Homo sapiens: one gene and its partner. The protein of the gene in region 2 purifies or fractionates together with the protein of the main gene of each other region. This does not show direct contact. Each region holds a gene or a part of one and is shown on either strand. Other genes may lie near its edges. The genes, in order: ACAD9 and NDUFAF5.

The links.
Region 1: the proteins of NDUFAF5 (region 2) and ACAD9 purify together in Homo sapiens (co-immunoprecipitation; one large-scale study listed by IntAct). This does not show direct contact.

What each region holds. Positions count from the first base shown.
Region 1 is NC_000003.12:128,906,958-128,910,769, reverse strand, and holds part of ACAD9 (complex I assembly factor ACAD9, mitochondrial), read right to left. Parts: intron 2,586-3,812; coding exon 2,506-2,585; intron 1,798-2,505; coding exon 1,671-1,797; intron 1,427-1,670; coding exon 1,349-1,426; intron 898-1,348; exon of another isoform or gene 750-897; coding exon 621-749; exon of another isoform or gene 507-620; coding exon of another isoform or gene 437-506; intron 30-436; coding exon 1-29. UniProt on the Homo sapiens protein: As part of the MCIA complex, primarily participates in the assembly of the mitochondrial complex I and therefore plays a role in oxidative phosphorylation.
Region 2 is NC_000020.11:13,805,295-13,809,106, reverse strand, and holds part of NDUFAF5 (arginine-hydroxylase NDUFAF5, mitochondrial), read right to left. Parts: intron 266-3,812; coding exon 205-265; intron 1-204. UniProt on the Homo sapiens protein: Arginine hydroxylase that mediates hydroxylation of 'Arg-111' of NDUFS7 and is involved in the assembly of mitochondrial NADH:ubiquinone oxidoreductase complex (complex I, MT-ND1) at early stages. May also have methyltransferase activity.

The DNA of each region.
Region 1 (3,812 bases), on a different chromosome or scaffold from region 2:
TCCACGCAGAAGGTGTTGGCCAAGAGAACCTGCCAGAACCGAGGACAGAAAAGATATGCCCAAATTCCTGGAATCAGACCTCTGAGCTTCAAAAACCCAGCCTATCAGCCAAACTGGGTAGCATGGCAGGGGTCACAAGGCCTGGCACAGGAGTCACCCCGTCTTGGGTTCTAATTCCAGCCCTGATCCAACAGCCTTTCCCCAACAGCAAGTGACTCAACATCTCTGACCCTGTTTCCTCTGAAAGGCAGATGTCACAATCCTGGTATCTGCAGGTGCTCTGGAAAGTGCAGGCAGAGATCCTGGTATACAGTGGGTCCTCAGAGACTGCACCCGCCTCCCTCCAGCACAGCGGGCAATGTGCAGGGTCTGTCCCTTGCTGGGGGTAGGGGCACTGGGATCAGGAACCCCTGTCACTCACCCCCTCTTCTCTCAGTCAGGAAGAAGAAAGGGAACAGCCCCATCTCCTGAGCAGCACAGACCCTCCCACGGCCACCGCATGGTGAACCTGCACAGCCTCCCCCACACCCGACCACACCCTCCTCAACAATCAACTTCATTAAAGTGCAGCAGGACAGATGGCAGCAGCCAGGCCCTGTGTGAGGCTGGGCTGGGCTCACCTCGTGGTCGTGGTTGCGGAGCCCAATGCGGATGGAGCGGCTGGCCCGCGACAGCACGGCCGTCATGCCATACAGGTTGATGAGGATGTTGGCCACCCGCTTCAGTACCAGCTGCTCCTCCATGATGGTCTGGGATCACAGAGGCTCCAAGTGGGGACTCACTACCTAGACCAGTCCCCCACATGGTCCCTCCCTGGGCTGCATCTTTGCCTGTCTTAGTCTCCTGTGTTCCTTGAGAAAGTGGAGTCAATAACACCTTTCTCTTCAGGTTGTGGGAGAACGGCTCCCAGCCACCTTCTGTTTTCCCTTCTCTTTGAGCTCTAGATTCAGGGAGGGGTTAAGGCAAGACCAGGTCCCAGAAGCTTGGCTGAGACCAGAAGCCAGTGCTTACTGTGCTACTGCCACCTTCAGCAGCAAGGGCCCCACCAATCAGGTCCCTAGATTCAGGCCCCAGGTGGAGCTGCCCTCCCGATTCTAGGGAGCCTCTCTACCTGAAAGGTGCACAGAAAAACACTGCAGAAAACTCACCCAGCAAGGGTACCCATCCGAGTAGCTAAGTGGGCCCCAGGCTGACAAAGTCAGCCTGACCTCACCACCCCATCCCTCCAGGGTGATCAACATTTCTGTTCTAGGCCTGGTCCCAAAGGATGCTTGACAAAAAGTAGTCTCATGAATGCTGGCCAAATTGGAGGACCGCTTGCGACCCAGGCCTGGGAGGGCCTGGTTACCTTGCCAAAGCGGAGCAGCAGTGTCTCCACGGTCCGGCCGAAGCAGTAGGTGTTCTCCTCAAACTTGTTGGCACTGTCCTATTAACCAAGACAGGACTCAGTTCAGCACCTCATCCCTACAGTGCCCTGTCCTGTCTCACAGCCCGGGTACCAGGCAGAGATGCCCCATCTGGGGGAAGCAATCCAGGGTGTCATGGACTAGCTGGTGTTCCCCAACTTCCCCTGGAGAAGCCCAGACCCCCCACAGTGAGATCTTTTCTGCCACAAGGAGATCTGGCAGGAGGGCATTGAAATAGGGGGTATGCCTGTTAGGCCCACTCACCGCAAGACTGGGGTGCACAACTCCATGGTTGCCTGTCAGCCCCAGGTCCACAGTTCGGCCCAGGGAGTCCCGAAGCCTCCGGCCAACGGTATCCATGACTGTGCTCACTTTGGCCTGTTTAAGCTCACTGCAGAAAGTCCATGGTCCTGTGACTGGAGGCCTCGCTGCTGGCGCTCACTGTCCAGCAACATGGCCCATTCGGCACCCAGAAGCTCCGTGCCCCCCTCTGGCCTGGGTATGCTGGGCCCCTGGCTACAGCCTGAACCCCCCCAAACCCACCACCTGCCAGAGAGCAGCCAGTCTCCTCAGGGGAGCCACACATATGCTCCCCCATGAGGGGTGGAGTCACAGCCAGCTTCCCAGCAGCTGTCTCCTGTGAAGGAGACAAAATGCTACTAGCAACCTGTACTTGGCCTCCAGCAGTGATTTTGGATTACTGTGCCCCTAGGGTGGGGGTGGAGGGGAGCATGAGGGGAAGAAGGGCAGAGAAGAGAAACACTGGCTTATGTTGGCTGTGAGGCCTGGCACCTTTAAAGGGACACCTCTCATTCTTCAGGTTCTGAAAAACCAGCTGCCTCTAGTGTGAGGGACCAGATGGGGGATACGGTATTTATGCTGAAGCTGTAGGGTGCTGTGGCCATAAGGGCAGGGCAGCGAGGGCTTCCCTGGGCAGCAAGCCCCCCACTACCACAGGGGAAGGTCCCCTCCACAAGGCTGCGCCACACCCCCATGCCCCCACTCCAGGTCAAGGCAGCTCTTTCCTCCCACTGCCCTGGACTGGCCCCTGCTGGGCAGGTATGGGACCTGAGAAGCACACGGTGACAATGGCACCTACTGGATCCTGGTAGTCAGGATGCGGCCGGCATGCTGCAGACCCGTCAGGGCGATGTACATCCGGAGAATCTCATTGGTTCCCTGTGGTCAGTAGTGTAGAGGTCAAAGGCTGCCCCCCGGCCAGGCAGCCATGGTAGTGCCACGTGTGCTGGGTAGAGCCGGCCACTGCCTGCTTGCCCATTGCCACAAAAGCCACTGCTCCTGAAGTAGCTGGGAGCAGGGCTCTGGCCAGGGCTCAGGGAGTGCACAGGGATGAGGAGGGAGGTGACCAGATGGCCATGAGCTCCCACTGGGACCCCCCCACCTCTCCGTGACCAGCCTCACGTGTGTCAAGCCTTTCTCCAAGTCTCCAGGTCCTCTGTAAAATGGAAACCAGCTTTCCCCGGGTGGTGAGGGGTGCTGATGCCTGGGGCTCAGCCAGTGCCAGACAGACATTGCTGGCTCCAGGTGGAGGCCAGATTCCTCACGGAAGCCAGAAATTGCTGAGTGGCAGCTAGAACCTCCTCAGTGCCAGGTGTCAACACACCCAGAGGGCCACATGCTCCCCACTCCCCCAACCCATGATTCTGATCAGTGAGAGGCCAGTGGGCTTCTGCCCACTCTGCACAATGGTACTGTGTGTCAGGTGCAGGGGCCTGACCCAGGCTACACAGCCAGCACTAGGGACTGAGGACTGTCCCCTGCAGTCAGGCTGACATCACGGACAGCAGGACTCCCTACAGGAAAAGGGGGGACTGCAGGGGCCTCCTGGCAGGACCACCCAGCTCCGAGCAGGCTCCAGACAGGAGCTCTCACCCTACATCGAGAGCCCTGTGTTCTTCCAAGGCCTTGAGGGCTTCCTGAACCCTGCTGACCACCCCAGCCCTGGAGAACCCCAACCCTCCCAGGCTAAGGGAAGGGCCTTTGGAGAAGACCCTTTGCAGGGCTGAGACCACTCCAGTGCCCTCAGGCTGGCCCTTGCCCCGTATGTCCACTGCAACAGTGGAGATGGCTGGAACCCAATGGGTAGGCCAGGAACAAAAGCAGCCAAGGAGGCCTCCCACTGGGCAGGACGGCCCAGGAGACAAGACTACACTCCCAGAGGCTGATGATGCCTCTCATCACCAGACCTGCTGCTCAGGCCCAAACCCTCTCCCTGTCTCAGGCCTGCCTCCTGTATACCCATGCCCACCATCATATCCCACTCATCCTGCTGTGCTCTCTTAGGTCCAGCCCCTCCCTCCCAGCAGGAGAGCCCCTGGTCTCCGGCCTCATCCCTGCAACTCACTCTCCACATGAGCCCCGTCCACATGTCCAGCACTTGCTGAG
Region 2 (3,812 bases):
TGCCTGGTGCCTGCCTCCTCCATTTTATATCAGAAGCTCCATGAAGACAGTCTGCTTTCTCCTCAACAATGGATCCCTAGTGCTTTGCCCAGTGCCTGCCAAAGAGCTGGCTCTCAAAATGTTTCTCTCAAATGGAGTCTAAAAATTCTTTTTTTTTGGCCTACCTTTCCCAATGGAGTCTAAAAATTCTTTAAAGTGCCTTACCTTGTAAATCTTCCATCAATTCAAACATTCCAGGATAGTTAACTTGAATTTCATCAGTGTCCTATTTAAAAAGAAAAAGAAATATTCATTTGACATTCATGATACAAAATTCCAGATTTAAAAAAGAGGCCGCAGAGACTACCCAGACCAATCTCCCATGCTAAGCAAAAAATATTTACAATATTCTTCATAGATGTCATCTGGCTTATGTTTGATTTATGAAAGTCTCTAATTGCTGATTAAATATCCTGCATTGTGAGAGAAATCATCCTAAAACTCCATCATTGGTTCTAGTTCTCTCTTTGGGAACCACACAGAATAAGAGTATTCTGTACCCTACAAACCATTGCCCTCTCCTCCAAGTCTTTGAAAACCTTCAGGACACAAAAATCTGGAGATCCTTACATGTTCTGACTACATGTCCCTGGACAGTGTCAATATCAATCTTTCTTAAAATGGGGCACCTAGAATCAAAATATTTCATTCTATATCTAGTAATGCAGCCAATAGGCTTGTTTAGGAAATGAGCACATTGCTGATACATGTGGAGTTTGTTTCTCAAATGAACAATTGGGTAATGACTTCCTCTTCTTTTTGAAGCCTGATACAGGACTTAACTGTTGGTACAGTGGCAGAGACCACTGATGCTCCCCAAATATCCAGGTGCTCCTTGACACTTCCCAATCTCAAACACATATTTCTTTTGGCCAAAGAAAGGAGGGGCAAGACAGTTAAGAGCTAGAGCCTTTTCCAGGCCATCTCTTTTGCTGTGGTGATCTTATAGAACACAGGGCCAGATTATAGAACACAGGGCCAGATGGCACAGCTACAAGATGGAGATGGGCTGTCCCACCAGCACGCAGCTGTGATGTGATAAAACTTTATTGTGTTAGGCACTAAAAGTAGGGGTTTATTCTTATTGGAAACTAGCCTAAAATAATTTTTTTTTTTTTTAAGACGGATTCTTGCTGTGTTGCCCAGGCTGGAATGCAGTGGTGTGATCTCTGCTCGTTGCAGCCTCTGCCTCCTGAACTCAAGCGATTCTTGTGCCTCAGCCTCCCGAGTAGCTGGGATTACAGGCGCCTGCCACCGTGCCCAGCTAATTTTTTTTTTTTGTATTTTTAGTAGAGACGGGCTTTCACCGTGTTAGCCAGGCTGGTCTCGATCTCCTAACCTTGTGATCCACCAGCCTCAGCCTCCCAAAGTGCTGGGATTCCAAGTGTGGGCCATGGCGCCTGGCTGGAAACTAGCCTAAAATAAATCTAAACATCATTAATAGAGGACTGGTTAAACAAATTAAAGAATATGTATTCTATAAAATACTGTACAGTTCTCAAAAAATAAGGTAGATACATGTCTATAGGAAAAAAATCTCCAAGACATGTTATTGACTGGAAAAAAAAAAGCAAAAGAGTGCATGTAATATTATATAAGTAAGTTTAAATGACATAAGTGTATTCTATGGGTCTATAAAAAAAAGTGGATCTGAAACGATGTCTAAGACACAGCTAACAAATCTTTGGGGAAAGGGACCAGGGTTTGAGAAGTCAGGAGGAGGGACAGGCACGATGGCTCATGCCTGTAATCCCAGCACTTTGGGAGGCCGAGGCAGGCAGATCATGAGGTCAGGAGATCGAGACCATTCTGGCTAACATGGTGAAACCCCATCTCTACTAAAAATACAAAAAATTAGCCAGGCATGGTGGTTGGTGCCTGTAGTCCCAGCTACTTGGGAGCCTGAGGCAGCATAATCGCTTGAACCCGGGAGGCAGAGGTTGCAGTGAGCCGAGATCACGCCACGGCACTCCAACCTGGGTGAAAGAGCAAGACTCCATCTCAAAAAAAAAAAAAAAAATTGCTGGGTGTGATGGCACATGCCCTTGGTCCCAGCTATTTGGGAGGCAGAGGCATGAGAATCCCTTGAACCTGGGAGGCAGAGGTTGCAGTAAGCGGAGATCTCGCCACTGCACTCTAGCCTGGGCAACAGAGGGAGAAGTCAGGAAGAGGAGACTTCGTTTCACTTTACACCCCACTGTATCACTCTCTCTATATATACCTTACTCTTCTTTAAAAAAACATATACGTGTATCAGGTTGTGTATGCTTTTTAATGAGACCTCTAGGTAGTGAGACCATGAACATTCATCATCCATATACTTTTCCATATTAACAAGCTGTTTTTAAGAGGAGATCCTAAGATTAAAAACAAAATTCTTTCCAGGCTGTTATCTAGCCATTAAGCAATATCCTTTGAAAACAATTCTTCAGTGCAACCAACTAAAAGCACTATCTCCACTTCAATCAAAAGAATGCCACAACAGCTTTGTTGAAGGCCTTATTTAAATTAAAAGGGGACCATATCTGCACCATTTTTTTTATTTTATTTTTGAGACGGAGTCTCACTTTGCCACCCAGCGCCCAGGCTGGAGTGCAGTGGTGCGATCTCGGCTCACTGCAACCTCCGCCTCCCAGGTTCAAGCTATTCTACTGCCTCAGCCTCCCAAGTAGCTGGGACTACAGGCCATGTGCCACCACGCCCAGCTAATTTTTTTGTATTTTCAGCAGAGACGGGGTTTCACTGTGTTAGTCAAGATGGTCTTGATCTCCTGACCTTGTGATCTGCCTGCCTTGGCCTCCCAAAGTGTTAGGATTAGAGGCGTGAGCCACCGTGCCAGGCCTTGCACCATTCTCTTAAAGTACTAGTCTGGTAGTTCAGTTCTAAAACGGAAATCAGCTTTACTTAGAATGCTCATTCTCTGAAAATAATTCATTAAGATGAAAATACATTAAGATGTAAATACATCTATATGATACTAATCTGACTCGATTTCACTTTAAAAATAAAAATCCATTGTAGCGTAAAAGTAATATATCTAATGTATGCAACATAAACCTGTATAGCTGATTATACAAAAGCTTTTTTGGATGGGAATTTTTAGAAAATGAATTAGAACACATATTATTATTATTTTTTTTGGAGACAGGATCTTGCTCTGTCACACAGGCTGGAGTGCAGTGGTGAGATCATGGCTCACTGCAGCCTCAACGTCCCAGGCTCAATCCTTCCAACTCAGCCTCCCGAGTAGCTGGGACTACAGGCAGGCCCAGCTATTTAAAAAAATTTTTTTTTAGAGATGAGGACTCCCTATGTTGCCCAGGCTGGTCTTGAAATCCCAGGCTGAAGTGATTCTCTGACCTAGGCCTCCCAAAGTGCTGAGATTATGGGAGTGAACAACTGTGCCTGGCCAGGACGCAATATTAATACAGCACCTCAGAAACAAAACTGTATACATGCCTCACAGGATAAATGTAATGATTCAAGAAGACATTCTCATAACTTTCTTATTAAATCAGCAACTTTCTAATTGTATAAACTAAAGAAGATTCTACACCAATATTTTTATATTATATTAAAGTATGAGTCATTAGGCTCATTTTTAGAGAATATGGATAGTATTCTGAATTATATTTCCCAATTAATAGAAATGTAGGCTTTTAAACATTTTAACATCAGGTTAAACATTTTTAGTAGAAATCTTTCTAAAACTCATTCTTTATAACCACAGAAAACCATGTGTAGTTCACATAATTTAACTTTCTTCTGGTGAT